Linked DNA regions of Homo sapiens: region 1 is linked to region 2. Evidence: fine-mapped expression QTL. A gene starts in region 2. The other region holds a variant in brackets. All regions are shown on one strand. Distances are from middle to middle.

Region 1 (2,500 bases), 150 kb before region 2:
CCAGGTGGTAGTGATGAGCAGGATGGGAGCAGGGGGACAAGAGAGAGTCATGGGCCCTTCCTGGGCTGTGTGCTGTGTCTGATAACTCATCATTAGATGGGCAAGACCTTTGGGGCCTTTGTAGCTCTGGCCAGAATCCCTCCTAATGCTCAGGCCTGACCCACACTGGGGTCCTTGTCTTGTGAACAGATCATGAAGTTCCCGCTAAACCGGCAGGCGATGAGAAAGGAAACCATCACTAAGATGCTCTGGAGTACCCGCACCCTGTTGGTGAGGGACCCAGCTGGCAGGGGTGCTCAGTTCGGACAGGGTTGACCCCCCTGTTTTTTTTAACCTAGTAGCTGCTCTTTGCAAAGGGGCTCCCAGCCAGGGTAAGGATCTTTCTTGGAGGGTCTGGGGTTTGCTGTGGGATCAGATGACTGCTTACAGGTAAGGTGCTCAGGGTCACAGGGGCAGTTATGCAGCAAAATCAGGGGTTACAATCAGCAGAGACAGAAACTTTCCCAGGAAGCTCCCTTTCTCCCCCTCCCAGGCCAAAAACTCCTGGGGGGCTGAGCATGGATCCAAGTCACTGGTGGGCCCACCTCTGGCCCAGCTGGCACCCAGGCCTCAGGTAAGTGTGGCCTCCTCACTCAGAATATCACCAAGGAGCAGGTACCACTTGTGGTGGAGGAGTACCTGGACAATGTCAATGAGCATGACTGGAAGATGCTACGAAACCGTATGATGGACATAGTTCAAGATGCCACTTTCGTGTATGCCACACTGCAGACTGCTCACTACCACCGAGGTATGCAGGGTCCCCAAGAGTGGCCACACTGGCCCCGTCCACTCTCCAGGTGTGCTGTTTACCAACTGGGCTTATCGACTGCTCCCCTACCCTCTCTGTACTTCTGGGCTAGTATAGGATTCTAAGATATCACAGAGGAGGCAGCATGCTATCAACTACAAGAGAGGAAGGGGCCAGGCACGGTGGCTCAC[A/G]CCTGTAATCCCAGCACTTTGGGAAGCCGAAGTGGGTGGATCATTTGAGGCCAGGAGTTCTAGACCAGCCTCACCAACATGGTGAAAACCCATCTCTACTAAAAGTACAAAAAAATTAGCCAGCTGTAGTGGCGCATGCCTATAGTCCCAGCTACTCAGTAGGCTGACGCAGGAGAATCGCTTGAACCTGGGAGGGGGAGGTTGCAGTGAGCCGACATCACACCACTGCACTCCAGCCTGGGCAACAGAGCGAGACTCCATCTCAAAAAAAAAACAAAAAAAGTATAAGAGAGGAACTGTTCTTCCTTAGGAACAAGGGCAGGACCTCAAACAGTCCAGAGGAGAAGCCTGGGGTGGTCAGGGAAGGCTTCCTGGCTGAGAGGACAGGCTTAGGGGCACCTTGAAAGTTCAGGCTGACTGGGGCTAGGGGAACATGTGGGTAACAGGTTAAAGGGGGGGGGGCTGGAAAATGCAGACACCAAAGACCCTTCAATATGAGGCCAAGAAAGGAAGGTTCAGAACAGGGAAAAGGAAGGCTTCCATGATCCTGGCCACAATCCTGTGAATTAGGTTTTAGTATTCTCAGTCTGAAGATAAGGAATTATTGATACAATTCAGAAAGGTAGAGCAACTTGCTTTAGGTCACACAGTGAATGAGTAGTGCAGACAGGATTCAAGTCTGCCCCCTTGATTCTGAAGCCAAAGCTCTTTTTCCTGCTTGGTGCAGGTGAGTGGGAGGCATGGGGTGGATGAGAAGCCTAGGCAGAGGCTTTTCCTGCATCCCTCCTCAGTTTCCCTATTCACAGATGCCGGCCTCCCTGTCTACCTGTATGAATTTGAGCACCACGCTCGTGGAATAATCGTCAAACCCCGCACTGATGGGGCAGACCATGGGGATGAGATGTACTTCCTCTTTGGGGGCCCCTTCGCCACAGGTGCAAAGGTCCCACCTGATACCCCAACTGGGTGTCCAGTCTCCCACCTCTGGATGCAGACCCACCCCTCCATTGGCTGGCCACAGGGAGCTCACCAGTTCCTAATCTGTTATGCTCTCCCAAATGAAAGTCTTCTGCTCCGGAAGCAGCAGAAGCAGCAGGAGTAGGGTGGGAGGTCAGTGTCCCCTGCTCTGTCCGAAATCCCACATCCCATTCTGCCCCCAGGCCTTTCCATGGGTAAGGAGAAGGCACTTAGCCTCCAGATGATGAAATACTGGGCCAACTTTGCCCGCACAGGGTGAGTCTGCCCCCCAGCACATCTGGGCATTCTACCTGCCCAGTGCTGGACCTGAAGAAGCCAGCTGCTTCGGATATTTGCCCCAGCATGTCCTACAGGAACTGCCCAGTCGGCCCAAACAGGGTGCCCCTTCTTCTTCAGCTTTCCTCAGTCAGTCACCGGATCCTAAACGTCTCTAGAATGTGTCCTTCTTGATCCATGACCCACACTCTTCATTCACTCAAGCATTCCACAGTCATTCACCACTGCACTCTTTTGGGCCCAGCCCCAGTACTGGGAGCTGGAA
Region 2 (3,011 bases):
CTCAAACTCCTGGGCTCAAGCGATCTGCCCACCTCAGCTTCCCAAAGTGCTGGGTTACAGGTGTGAGGCACCACACCCAGCCTTCTAATCTTTTCATAGAAAACATTAATACTTGTGTACTTACGCCAAACCACAGTCTGGATAGTAACAGGAAGTTTGCATTTTGTTTATCTCTGGGCAGGATGAAGGAAGGTAGGTGGGGGTGGGGAAGGATTGTGGGTGATTTTTATTTTCTTTGTATTTAGCAATATTTTCTGCTTTATGTGAAGTAGACATATTTTCTTTGTATTAAAAGAGCAAAATAAATTTGTTTTCTTTAAAAGCAAAACAAGAAAAAACAGGAAACTCTGCAGGTGACAAGTGGGTCCATAATAGGGAGCCAGCCACGGAGGTGAGATAAGGGGGGAGTCCTTCGAAAGTGGCCTGGGGAGTAGGAGAGAGTGGGAACTTCCCCTGGAAACATTCCCTCTTTCATGTCTTTCTGGCCCCTTGACTTGAGAGTGCTTGACTTGGTTATGGTCCCACCCCAAGGGGTGGAAGTGGGGACCGAACAGGACCATTGTCTGCCCATCAGGTCTGTGGGGGTCGAGGGGGAGGTGGGGAGTACTGGGAACCTGGAGACTGGGGATGCTTTCTCACACTCACTAGTACTAGAAGATGGGGAAGGTGAACCAGGCTGGAGGTCGAGTTAACAGGGTAAAGAGGCCAGGGCCCTAGTTTCGCATCCGCCGACTGGCAGCTCTTCTTACGTGTTCTTTCACGGAAGCCCCTCCTTGGGAAGCCCCGCGCCCCACCCACCAGGAGTCGTCCCTTTTTGGGCGGGGCTGAGGCTTCCAGGCTGGGTCCTGAGAAAGTTTGGTGGCCGGAGACTGTGGGGCGCTTAGGTACCGACCTAACAACTTCTGCGCCTGTTTCCAGGGACGAGCCACGCACGGTGCCCCCTGAACACCTAACAGTCCCGGGGGCAGCCCCACCTCTGGCTGGGTGGACAGAGACAGCCTGTGGGCGTGGCCCAGAACTGAAAGCCTGTGACTCCTTGCGACCCGCCGGGCACACCCCCTACTCAGCTACGCAGCTCCCGAGCGCTTGAGGGGAGCTTCCCAGGCTCCCACTAGCCCACCCTCAAGCTGGGGTTTCGCACGTGCGATCGGCTGGGGTGGGCAAGGGGGTCTCCGCTCAAGGAAAGTATTCAGAACCAGCCCCTTCTCCCCCACCCTCTCTCCTGCAGGGCCCTACTGCACCTCGAAAGTGCTGGCAGGGACGAGGAGCCTGCGGGGGCCAAATTCCGTACCGTCCCCCGCCTCCCACGGTGTTCGAACAGCTCAGTAGACCGCCGCCACCAGCTGGCTGGAGCAGCCGCCGGTGACATCTGCGCCGCGCCCACGCTTCGGAGCCAAGATCCACCTCCTCTCCCGCCCGCACCGGGGAGCCCACCCACCCACCTGCTGCACTAACCTGGCCGCCTCGGCGGGGCCTGGGTTCCCACGCCCGCCAGGCTCCGCTCTACTCCGCCGCTTCCGGGTGTGCGCGGAGGCGCTGGGGCGGTGCCCTAGCCCGAGCCGCCCCGTCCGCCCGCGCGTCCCGCCCCGCGGGCTCCCGGTGGCTGCTTCCCGTCCGCTGTCCTCTGCTGCCAGTCCCCTGCCCCGGGCAAAGCCCATCTGGTCCGCCGAGCAGGTAAGACACCAGCGCCCAAGGTTAGACGGCAGGAAGACCCGACTTTGGGGGTTTGCGATTCTTACGAGGCGGGGGGCTCGTAAGAGCTACAGCTGCCAGACTTCGGTAAATCAAGGGGGCGCCCCCTGGAGACCAGAATTTTCTGGTACCCCTGGGGATCCGGCTTCAAGATCGCTGCTACCAGTGGGCACTCAAAACGGGGTGCCCATGGGTCCCAGGTACAAGCCCGGCCGAACGTATCTGAAGCCCCAGGAAACACGTGGCACAAATTCCGGGAGAAACTGTTAGCCCGGAAGATATGGGAACATTAACTGGCGAGTAGTGTGAAGCCTTGTGTACACAAACCTTTAAGAACCTTAAAACAAGATTGGCGGCCGGGCGCGGTGGCTCACGCCTGTAATCCCAGCACTTTGGAAGGCCGAGGCAGGTGGATCACCTGAGGTCAGGAGTTTGAGACCAGCCTGGCCAATATGGTGAAACCCCGTCTCTACTAAAAATACAAAAATTAGCCCGGCGAGGTGGCGCGCGCCTGGAGTCCCAGCTACTCGGGAGGCTGAGGCAGAAGAATCGCTTGAACCCGCGAGGCGGAGTTTGCAGTGAGCCGAGATCTCGCCACTGCACTCCAGCCTGGGCGACACAGCTAGATTCCGTCTCAAAACAAAACAAAACAAAAACAAACAGGATTGGCAACTTCAAAGAGGACGCACACTTTCCAGTAACCCATCCCCCTCTAAAGGCTGCGCTCCAGGGTGGGTCTGCGGAGTTCCAGCCGAACCCAAATTGCTCAGCGGGAGCCAGGGCTGCTCAGGGGTCGGAACTTAAATCTTGAGCCCCTCAGGCCCCAGAACCGTCAGGTCCCAGAGACCCAAGTTTTTTTTCATCCAGTGGGGCTGTCTTAGGAAGCACCCGGGACATCTCCCCGGCGAGGCGGAGGCGGGGAAGGAGCCTCCCCTCCAGGGGTGGATCCAGCTTTGCCCCGCCCACGCCTCGCTTCCTGATTGGCTCATGGTCCCTGACAAAGAAAAGCCTACATTAACGCTCCCGCCTTATTAACCCTGTAGTCACTTTCTACTAACCGGCGGGGTTAAGATGGGGTTTCTCAGGCCGGGCGCGGTGGCTCATGCCCGTAATCCCAGCACTTTGGGAGGCCCAGGCGGGCCGATCGCTTGAGCCTAGGAGTTCGAGGTCAGTCTGGGCAACAAAGCGAGACCTCGTCTCTGCAACAAAATTACAAAAATTAGCCAGGCGTGGTGGCGTGCCCCTGTAGTCCCAGCTACTCGGGAGGCTGAGGTGGGAGGATTGCTTGAGCCCGGGAGACTGAGGGTGCAGTGAGTTGT

Evidence for each region.
Region 1: its variant is fine-mapped to the expression of TRADD in whole blood (TOPMed, PIP 0.99).

Annotation. Positions count from the first base shown.
Region 1 is chr16:67,004,604-67,007,103 of GRCh38, forward strand. It overlaps CES4A (carboxylesterase 4A), which reads left to right. Exons shown (of 14, transcript NM_001364782.1): 10 at 190-270; 11 at 637-790; 12 at 1,788-1,916; 13 at 2,142-2,214. Among named protein-coding and RNA genes, the nearest start is that of CES4A, 17 kb to the left of the region's middle. The variant A/G (reference allele first, on the strand shown) is at 982.
Region 2 is chr16:67,158,383-67,161,393 of GRCh38, forward strand. It overlaps TRADD (TNFRSF1A associated via death domain), which reads right to left and starts at 1,527. Exons shown (of 5, transcript NM_003789.4): 1 at 1,456-1,527. It overlaps FBXL8 (F-box and leucine rich repeat protein 8), which reads left to right and starts at 1,575. Exons shown (of 3, transcript NM_018378.3): 1 at 1,575-1,674. RefSeq lists an enhancer at 696-955 and silencers at 1,556-1,695, 2,716-2,805.